2 separate regions of the Homo sapiens genome follow, and region 2 is linked to region 1. Evidence: fine-mapped expression QTL. A gene starts in region 1. The other region holds a variant in brackets. All regions are shown on one strand. Distances are from middle to middle.

Region 1 (5,361 bases):
GAGCACTTGAGGTCAGAAGTTCGAGACCAGACTGGTCAAGATGGTGAAACCCCGTCTCTACTAAAAATACAAAAATTAGCCAGGCGCAATGGTGGGTGCCTGTAGTCCCAGCTACTCGGGAGGCTGAGGCAGGAGAATCGCTTGAACCCGGGAGGTGGAGATTGCAGTGAGCTGAGATCGCGCCATTGCACTCCAGCCCAGGCAACAGAGTGAGACTCCGTCTCAAAAACAAACAAACAAACAAACAAACAAAAACAAGTCTCCCAGCCTGGCTCCAAAGTGGTTCTGGACGCGTCCTCCTCCAACTCCACTTTACCCAGTCTCTCCCCCACCCCTCCCCCACAGGCTGACTCCATAACAATCTATTAATAGAAACTACCTACGAGTTTCTGATACCCTGCCAGGAGCTCCTTGGCACGCAGCGGGTGCACCTAGAACCTTCCAGCCCGTCCCATCCCCGACCCTCCTCCACCCCAGGCATCCGTAGAACGCACTTCGGGAAGAGCTCCCGCCAGCCCACCCGCCTCACCGAAGGCCCTCTTGGGCTGCACCAGGCGCAGGGTGAAGGGCTGGGACTTGGGCAGCTCCCGGAGCATCTTGGCCACCTCGTAGTGGCGGCAGCCCACAATGGAGTGGTCGTTGATGGCTTCGATGCTGTCACCCACGCACACTGCCTCGATCCGGTTGATGATACTGCCTTCCTTGATTCTCTGCAGGGATCCAGCGTCGCTGGCAGGGCAACCCCAGCCACCCGCCTCCAATCCGCAGAACCCACGTCGACCCAGAGTGGGGGGGGCAGTTGCTGGACCCCAGGAAGCCACCCGCCCACCCCCTCCCGGGCACCTTGATGAAGGCGTAGCCAGCCCCGTTGTCCGTGATGGTCAGCCCCAGAGCATCCTCTGTCTTAGTGACCTCCACCTCCTTGGTCTCGCCTCGCACGTGGGCAAAGATGAAGTCCTCCAGGCCTATCTGACCCCCCAGGAGCTTCTGCATGTCCACTTTGTGGCTGTTGAGGGTGCAGAATAAAATCTTCCCGGGGGAGAAGGAGCCTAGAGTTAGCCAGGGCATGCATCCCCCCACGCAGCCACCCTGTCTGCGCAGGCCCCTGCCCCCAGCGACCAGGATCCCAGCCCATGGGAAAGGGCAGGGCGTGGGACCCCCAGAACAGAGAGAGGAGGGAGAAGGAGACTTCCAGCAGGTGGAGACCCCTCTCCATACCCCGGGACCTCCAGCCCCCAGACCTCCAGGTTTAATCTGCTGGCGCCCCCTGGGGGCTGCAAACCAAACGAACCCGGATTGGAAAAACGCCCAGGAACCCCCCAACCCCACGGCGGCCTCAAACTTCCCATCCCTAAGGGGGCCATCTGGAACCCCAGACCCCAGCTACGCCCAGGAAGCACAGAGGCGCTTCCCCGAGGGCTGGGGTCCGCTCCAAGCTAGGTCTGCGCAGAGGATTTTCTGGAATATCTAGGGGTCCGCTAGTCCTAAGACCTGCCCATCTTTTGCGCAGAGCGTGCAAAGGGGGCCCCTGGGAGTGTGGCACCCCGGGATCTGAGGGCTGGGTCTCTGAGATCCGGCGATTAGGCGGCCACCCCGACGTCTGGGATCCGGGGATCTGGGGTCTCCCGTCCAGGGTCCAAGCTCCCTACCCCTCACCCCATCAGGCGGGTGGTCTTGGGCGCCGGTGTCCGGGCTCCTTACCTCGGTGGGCGCGATCCCGAAGGCTTCGGCGATCTTGGCGTACAGCTCGCGGACGTTGGTGAAGCCCTCGATCTTGCCCGTGGGGCTCCCGTGCGCCAGCTGCGTGCGGAAGACGAGGCGCGGGCGGGCGCGGGGCGCGGCCGGGGGCTCCGAGGGCGCGGGCGGGGGCGCAGACGCGCGCGGGGTCTCGGTCCCCCGGGCCTCCCGGGCCGCTGCTCCCTCCATGGCGGGAGAAGTTCGGCCACCCACCCGGGCCCTCGCCGCCGCCGCCGGATCCGCCGCTTCCTGCAGCCTCCCCTCCCCCGGCCCAGGGCGCGACAGCCGAGACGCCCGGGTAAGGGGATCTGGGAACCCGAGCCTCCCGGGAAGGCGACACCGCGGGGTGCGCAGGGGTGGGTCGGGCCCCAGGTGTCCGGGCCCTGCCAGGGCCAGCTGTGCCCTCCCCGGGGATACCCGCAGTCCGGGGGGGCCTGAGCTCAGGACCCTGGAAGAACAGGGACCACAAATAAGGACAGGGACAGGCCTGGAGCGGTGGCTCACGTCTGTAATTCCAGCACTTTGGGAGGCCGAAGCGGGCAGATGACCTGAGGTCAGGAGTTCAAGACTAGCCTGGCCAACATGGTGAAACCCCGTCTCTACCAAAAATACAAAAATCAGCCGGACGTGGTGGCGGGCGCCTGTAATCCCAGCTACTCGGGAGGCTGAGATCTCTTGAACCCGGGAGGCGGAGGTGGCAGTGAGCTGAGATGGCGCCATTACACTCCAGCCTGGGCAACAAAGCGAGACTCCGTCGCAAAAAAAAAAAAAAAAAAAAAAAAAAGGACAGGGACAGCTGAGGGTGCTGGAGCACTCACCCTCTGCTAGGCGAGGTCATTGTTTTATTTTATTTTATTATTTTTATTTATTTATTTATTTTGAGCTGGAGTCTCGCTCTGTCACCCAGTTTGGAGTTCAGTGGCACGATCTCAGCTCACTGCAACCTCTGCCCACCAGGTTCAAGCAATTCTCATGCCTCGGCCTCCCCAGTAGCTGGGATTACAGGCATATACCACCATGCCCGGCTAATTTTTTTGTATTTTTAATAGAGATGAGGTTTCACCATGTTGGCCAGGATGGTCTTGAACTCCTGACCTCAGGAATCCACCCACCTTAGCCTCCAAAAAAGCTGGGATTACAGGCATGAGCCACCACGCCCAGCCTTTGGTTTGTTTGTTTGATTTTGGAGACGGAGTCTAGCTCTGTCGCCCAGGCTGGAGTGCAATGGCGTGATCTCGGCTCACTGCAACCTCCACCTCCTGGGTTCAAGCGATTCTCCTGCCTCAGCCCCCCTAGTAGCTGGGATTATAGGCGCACACCACCATGCCTGGCTAATTTTTGTATTTTTTAGTAGAGACAGGGTTTCACCATGTTGGTCAGGCTTGTCTCGAACCCCTGACCTCAGGTGATCCACCTGCCTTGGCCTCCCAAAGTGCTGGGATTACAGGCGTGAACCACCGCACCCGGCCGCATTCAGTTTTTTAAAATTTAATTTAGAAACATGATTAATTTTTTGTACAGTTGGGATCTCACTGTGTTGCCCAGGCTGGTCTCAAACTCAAGACCAGGAGGTTCAGGCCATCCTTCAGCCTTGGCCTCCCAAAGTGCTAGGATTACAGATGTGAGCCACTGTGCCCAGCTTCTCTTCAGCATTTAAAGCTACCATCTGACATATCAGATATTTTATTTTATTTTATTTTTTGAGACGGAGTCTCTCTCTCTTGCCAAGGCTGGAGTGCAGTGGCACGATCTCGGCTCACTGCAACCTCTGCCTCCCGGGTTCAAGCGATTCTTCTGCCTCAGCCTCCTGATTAGTTGGGATTACAGGCACCTGCCACCATGCCCAGCTAATTTTTTTTGTATTTTTAGTAGAGACGGGGGTTTCACCATGTTGGCCAGGATGGTCTCGAACTCCTGACCTCAAGGAATCCTCCCGCCTCAGCCTCCCAAAATGTTGGGATTACAGGCTTGAGCCCCAGCCCCCTGCTGATATTTCATTTCATCTTTTGTCCTGTTTGTCCCCAGGACTGGAGGAATGTCAGCTCCAGGAGGGTGGGGGCTGTTCCCCTGCTCTGTCCCCATGCCCAGTGTCCAGGGCACAGTGCCTGGCATACAGCAGGTGCCCAGTGATCTTTGGTGAGGAATGAACGGATGTCCAGGTCACAGATGAAGGAGGAGACCCCAGGCACCAGGAGGCGTTGGTAAAAATCCGCTGGAGTGCAATGTCAGAAACACCTACGTATCCATCAGATTCCTACCCAGGAATGTCGGCTCAATAAACAGCCATCCTGCCTGCAGTGGCGGGCCCTACAGCAGAGCCAGTCACAGCCTCCGCCCAGGAGGAGCCTCACAAACTGAACATGGGGAGAGAAAAGAAAGTGGCAGGAGGGTTTGGACGAGGTAAGAAATTTTATGTAAGGCCGGGCACGGTGGCTCATGCCTGTAATCCAGCACTTTGGGAGGCTGAGGCAGGCGGATTGCTTGAGGTCAGGAGTTCGAGACCAGCCTGGACAACGCAGTGAAACCCCATCTCTACTAAAAACACAAAAATTAGCCAGGTGTGGTGGCGCACACCTGTAGTCCCAGTTACTCGGGAGGCTGAGGCAGAATTGCTCCAACCTGGGAGGCGGAGGTTGCAGTGAGCCAAGATCATGCCACTGCACTCCAGCCTGGACAACAGAGTGAGACTGTCTCAAAAAAAAAAAAAAAAAAAAAAGGCCAGGTCTGGTGGCTCACCCCTGTAATCCCAGCACTTGGGGAGGCCAAGGAAGGCAGATCACAAGGTCAAGAGATCAAGACCATCCTGGCCAACATGATGAAACCCCATCTCTACTAAAAATACAAAAATTAAATTAGCTGAGTATGGTGTCATGTGCCTGTAATCCCAGCTACTTGGAAGGCTGAGACAGGAGAATCACTTGAACCCGGGAGGCGGAGGTTGCAGTGAGCCAAGATCGCGCCACTGCACTCCAGCCTGGGACAGACAAGAGCGTGACTCCGCCTCAAAAAAAAAAAAAGAGAGAGAGAGAGGGATTCACCTGCCTCAGTCTCCCAAGTAGCTGGAATTACAGGCATGCACCACCATCCCTGGCTATTTTTGTATTTTTAGTAGAGACCGGGTTTCACTATGTTGGCCAGGCTGGTCTGGAACTCTTGGTCTCAAGTGATCTGCCTGCCTCGGTCTCCCAAACTGCTGGAATTACAGGCGTGAGCCACTGTGCCCAGCCCACACAGCTTTTTGAATGTACCAAAACCTACTGAATTGTATACTGAAATTTTTTTTAATAAAAAACTGCTGCAAAATGCTATTTTCCAGGCCTGCCTAGAAATGAGAAACTCTAAATTTAAGGTGGTGGTACCTGTGCCAGGACAGGGTGAAACTGGGGTGGGGAGTGAGGGGGGTTGGCAGTATCAGGTTGTCTGACTCGCCCATGATGGCTGTAACAAAGCACCAAAAACTGGGTGTGGTGAGGTGGCTCTTGACTGTGATCCCAGCACTTTGGGAGGCCGAGGCGGGAGGATCACTTGAGCCCAGGAGTTTGAGACCAGCCTGAGGAATAAGGTGAGACCCCATCTCTACAAAAAATACAAAATTAGCGGGGTGTGGTGGCACACACCTGTAGT
Region 2 (5,361 bases), 23 kb before region 1:
CCAGACACCCCGCCTCATCTGGAAATAGTTCCGTTTGTTTCTCTAAAAAGACTTGTAGGTGGGAAAAAAAATCTTTTGTTCTCATGGAATTGGCCTATTGGCAAGATCGCATGTTTTTTTAATAAACGTTGTATTTTAGAATAATCTTAGGTTTGCAGAAATGCAGAGAGTGTAACGTGTCCGACGCCCCACACCCGCTGCCCTAGTTGCTGCTGGCATTTGTGACACAGCGCATTTGTCCCAAGGGAAGAGCCTGGGAAACAACACGGCACCCAACTGGGGCCCGGTGGTCCCTTGGGAGCTGTGTTAGTGCCCGGATCTGTCTTTGCCCCCCACCCCTCTGCCTTGCCTCCCACAGTGGGGGTGACAGTCCATTTCCCAGACGACAGGAGGGAGGGTACAAGGGTGGACACAGCTGCTGGCCTGGGCCCAGGCTCTCATGGGGGCAGCGCTTGGCCATGCCTGGGGGCATTCGTGGTGGTCCCACCTTGGGGCTGCTCCTGGCGTGGAGTGAGTGGAGGCCAGGGATGCTGCCCAATGTGCTTCAGTGCCCAGGATGAGCCTCCCCAAATGTCCTCACTGCAGTAGGCAGAGGTGCAAGGCAGATCCTGCACTCCCCTGGGGCACTGGTCACCTCCCAGCCCCCACCTCTAACAGGATCCCGGAAGTCTGTGGCACAGGGCTTGGGAACTGGCCAGGGAAGTGCATCTGATCAGCGTCCGCTCTCCACACCGCAGACCCTGGCCCACCCTGACCAGCCTACTCCAGAATCCCAAATCGCATTGCAGCACACACAACACTGCCATCCCCAGCCCAGCCTTCAGCAGACATCACAAGTTGATGGCAGATGGCCAGAGCCATCTTAGAATCCTCTGGGCAGCCTCTTGCCTGGGTTCCTGGCCAGCTCCACCGCCGATCAGGACAGGCTGCTGGGGCAGGGCTGAGTCCGGGCTGGACTCGGGGGGCACTTTTTATTTTTTTGAGACAGGCTGGAGTGCAGTGGGCGTGATCACAGCTTTCTACATCCTCAACACCAGAAGGCACTTTTGAGCCCAGAGTGGTGTTTGGGACAGGCCGGGTTCTGTAGTCACAGCCCAGGTTGTGTGTGCGTGGCTGGCGCAGCCCAGCCTGTACTGGGCCTAACCCAGACCTCCCACCAGCTCTATGTGACAGTATTTACTTCCATTTGGCTGCTCGGGAAACTGAGGCTCACAAAAGCCCACGTTGTTGAGCCCAGAAAGTGGCAGGGCCAGTATTAGAAGCTGGGTTTCTCTACCCTGGAGAATCCCAATCCCAGACCACCACCCCGTCCCTGCCTCAGTTTCCCCACCTGCCCCTGCAGAGATTCCCCCAGCCCCAGCATCCTGCTTCCTCCTCCTCACGTTCCTTTTGCACCCCAAGGGAGATGGCTGTCCTCCAACTGGCAAGACACATGGTTTGCCAGGGGCCCCAGTCTGGAGGGAGCAGAGCTGGGGCCCTGGGACCCCTGAAGGGTCACGGGCACTGAGCCTGGGAAGACGGGCTGCTGGCCGAGAAGGGTGACGGCTGCCTTGCAGAGGACAGGGCAGCAGGTGTGCCCAGGGCAGGGGGCACACAGGGCTCAGGCCAAGCTAAGGAGCCAGATCCTAGGGGAGCTGGGCACCAGGGAGCTACGGAGGGCGCGTGAGCTGGGGAGGGCCTCCGAGCTGGGTGTCGAGACCCTGCAGGCAGACTGGAGGTGGGGGCCAGGGGTAGGCTCTGCACACCACCCCCCCATCTACCCCATGACTCTCCACCATGGCCCGAGGTCCACCTGGTGTCCTGGAAGCTGCCCCCGCCCCCACCCAGCTTCCTGACTTTGGCTGTGTCCAGAGCTAAGAATAGACGCTCCCTGCCCGGCCCCCGCCGGAAACCGCAGCCACGGGGGTACATCCTGAGCCTGGCCTCTGTTCCCACCATCTGCCCCCCAGCCCCTCACAACTCCTCCCACCAGAGCCTCCTGTGCTCCCATTGAACCCGAAGTGCTGGCGGGGGGTGGGGGGCGGGGGGCGGGCCAAGACCGGGAGACCAGCAACCAGCCCCAGATGACAGGGAAGCCCAGTGCTCATGTTCCAATCCCACACATGGGCGTGGCATTGTTCCCCCTTTGTGCCTCAGTTTCCCCATCTCTAAAATTTAAGAGTATCTTTACCCCCTGCCTTGCAGAGATGTGGTGAGGCTTAAGCTAAATGCAAGTGTCCTTCTCTGAACTCTGCCCAGGCTGTTTCCCAGAAGAGTCATTGTCCTTGTTATCTCAGGGCCGAGGACAGAGGAAGTGGGGACAGGACAGCCTTCCTCCGTCTCTCACTGCCCCCTCATCTGGAGCCCCAGCCCCACATCCTCCTCCCCCAACATCTGCCCTCCTTGCAGTTAGTGTAGCAAGGGCCTCATGCTCTCTCTTGCCTCCAAAGCTTTATACATGCAATTCCTGTCACTGCCACGTAGCCCAGACCTGGGGAGCTCCTATTCATCCTACAAAACCCCACTTCCCATGCCCTCTCCTCACAAGATGTCTTCCTAGCTCACCTCTGGGCTTCCCTAGGCCCTGTCTCTTCCTTTGGCCCAGCCCTGACCCCAGGGGGCTGGAACAGCCTGTGTCCAGTTCATTCTCCAGCCTAGGGCATCCTGAAGGGCAGGCCTGGTTTCAGGTCTCACTTGGAGCTCATAATTGTCCCACTGTATAAGCTGAACACAGAGAGGGGTTGGGGAGAGTAAGACTTGGAGATTAGGTCGGCTTCACGGGAAAGCAGCCTTGGAGCCAGGGTTTTGCCACATCCATAGGAGTTGGATAGCCTCCTTGCCAGGAAAGAGAGAAGTTGTGTTAAATGGCTGGTGACTTAATGGGATAGAGCTTTGGGAGGGAGGTTGGGTGTGGCCGAAGGCCAGGAGGAGGAAGGATAGTGGGCGGGGTAGCCGGGGAAGGGGCTTCCGGACTGGGCTGACGAGAGGGCCGGGCCAGGCTGGGAATACCCCTCACTCACAGCCTGGACTAGCAGCCCTCCCGGGCCCAGGGGACGGGGTGGGGTGCAGTCAGGGCAAGGTCAGCTTGTCCGGTCCCACTCCAGGTCCCTAACTCAAGGTTCTGTC[C/T]GGCTCGGGTGTACAAACAAGGCCAAGGAAGCCCAAGGTCCCCCCTCTGCAAAGAGACGGTCCCAGTCCCTGCGTCCGGCACCTTCTCAGCCATTCCTGTTGGGCTCCATCCCTCCTTCCCCAGCCCGAGCTGGGGGGTGGCCAGGAAAGAGTGCCCATCCCCCACTGCAGCCTCCCGGCTCCAGACTGTTCCTCCTCTGGCTCCAAAGCCACCTCCGAGCCTCCTCAAGAGACCCTCCCATGCGATGCCATCACCCCAGCCCTCCCGGCTCACCTGCTCTGGGACCACCTTTCTCAGTCTGGCTGTGTCGTCTGGTGCACCCCCCATCCCTCTGTCCTCCCACCCCACCCCTGGAAGGGGCCTCAAATATGTCCTGTATGTATTAAGCAGGGCATACTACTACTGTGTGCCGCGTTCCAGCGCACCCAGTGAATTTGGAGCCCTGGAGTCTGGGCGACCCCCGGGAGCCGATCCGCCTGGACCTGCCCCGCCCCCTCCAGGCCTTGGGTGCTGCCCAGATGGTGAATAATGCGGGCCTGGCGGCGGGAGCGCCGGGAAGAGGCCTGGCAGGGCGCTGGGCGGCTGGAGGGGCTGAGGCTCCCGAGGAAGCGCCCCTGCCACCCCTACGCGGGCCATTGCATCCCTGCCACCGGTGGCCTGGGGGTCCCAAGGGCGCCGCCTTCCCCAGAAGGCTGTAGGGTGTCCCGGCGTGCGGGGGGCACCCACTGACTCCAAGTCAGCCAGGCCCGGGCCCGAGGGGCGTGGCCAGCGCAGGGTGGGCGGGGCTGATGAGAGACAGCGGGAGACAGAGACTGGACGGAGAGAGCGAGCCGCGGGCTGCCAGCGGCCCCCACCCGTCCCAGCTCGGCTTAGCCCCCGCGGACCCCTCCAGGCCGCGACCCCAGGGCGTCCTGTGCCGCCACGCCCTCCATCTGTGTGGGTCCTCTGCTGGGCCCGCCCCTGGTCACAGCCAGACTGACTCAGTTTCCCTGGGAGGTCCCGCTCGAGCCCGTCCTTCCCCTCCCTCTGCCCGCCCCCAGCCCTCGCCCCACCCTCGGCGCCCGCACATCTGCCTGCTCAGCTCCAGACGGCGCCCGGACCCCCGGGCGCGGGATCCAGCCAGGTGGGAGCCCCGCAGATGAGGTCTCTGAAGGTGAGGTCGCCCCGCTGGCTTAGGGCGGGATGCACTGCTCTGGTGTGAGCCCGGGCTGCTGGGCGCATCCGGCGCTGGCCCTGCCCTGCTGTGGGTGTGTCGCAAAGCCCGCGGTGACAGCGGCCAGGTGCCAGGTGTCCCCTGTGTGGCCCGGCGGGTGGCATGGTGCCCTGAGGCCTGCCCTGGGCGCCCAGGCGGCTGGGTCTGGGTGCGGCCCAGGCTGATTCTGTCCGGGGGGCTCTCTGGTCTCTGTGGGGCCACATGGCTGTGAATGGGGGTCCCAGACTCAGGGGGCTGCAGCCGGGGAGGGGGCCCAGGCCCTGGGTGTGGCAGGGATCGAGTGTGGTTGTGCGGCTGTGTGTGTGATCTTGTCTCTGGGAGTGAACCATGCATGGCCCTGGTTGTGTGTCTGTGTCTGTGCGTGTGTGGTGGTTTTGTGTGTGTGACCGTGTGTTTGTTTCTGCCGAGAGTCTGTGACTGTTAAATACTGTGTGTTCTTCTGTGTGTCTTTCTGTGTCTGTCTGTATCTATGTACCTGTTGTGTTTCTGCCTGTGTGTCTGTGTTTTTCTGTCTGTGTCTGTCACATTTCTGCCTGTGTGCCTATGTGTGTATCTGTGTGTGTCTATGTCTGTCGTGTTTCTGCCTGTATGTGTCTGTGTGTGGCTGTGTGTCTGTTGTGTTTCTGCTTGTGTGTGTCTATCTGCGTGTGTCTGTGTGTCTGTTGTGTTTCTGCTTGTGTGTGTCTGTGTCTGTCATGTTTCCATCTGTGTGTGTCTATCTGTATGTGTCTATGTATTTGCCATGTTTCTGTATGTGTGTCTGTGCATGCCTGTGCGTCTGTCTACTGTGTTTCTGTCTGTCACATTTCTGCCTGTGTGTCTGTCATGTTTCTGTCTGGGTGTGTCTGTGGTGTTTCTGTGTGTGTCTATCTGTGTGTGTCTGTGTATCTGCCATGTTTCTGTATGTGTGTCTGTGCATGTCTGTGCATCTGTCTGCTGTGTTTCTGTCACATTTCTGCCTGTGTGTCTGTCATGTTTCTATCTGTGTGTGTGTCTGTGTGTCTGCCATGTTTCTGTGTGTGTGTCTGTGCACGTCTGTGCG

Evidence for each region. PIP is the estimated chance that this variant, and not a neighbour inherited with it, causes the effect.
Region 2: its variant is the best candidate, but not a certain one, in a credible set for the expression of GIPC3 in blood mononuclear cells (TOPMed, PIP 0.76).

What each region holds. Positions count from the first base shown.
Region 1 is chr19:3,582,163-3,587,523 of GRCh38, reverse strand. It overlaps GIPC3 (GIPC PDZ domain containing family member 3), which reads right to left and starts at 2,046. Exons shown (of 6, transcript NM_133261.3): 1 at 1,702-2,046; 2 at 844-1,029; 3 at 530-710. The coding sequence starts at 1,926.
Region 2 is chr19:3,605,428-3,610,788 of GRCh38, reverse strand. It overlaps TBXA2R (thromboxane A2 receptor), which reads left to right and starts at 3,914. Exons shown (of 3, transcript NM_001060.6): 1 at 3,914-4,259. CACTIN-AS1 (CACTIN antisense RNA 1) reads right to left here and starts at 3,542. Exons shown (of 4, transcript NR_038865.1): 1 at 3,380-3,542. It overlaps CACTIN (cactin, spliceosome C complex subunit), which reads left to right. Exons shown (of 10, transcript NM_001080543.2): 10 at 1-144. RefSeq lists enhancers at 3,216-3,789, 4,363-4,937 and silencers at 3,776-3,855, 3,966-4,015. The variant C/T (reference allele first, on the strand shown) is at 3,106.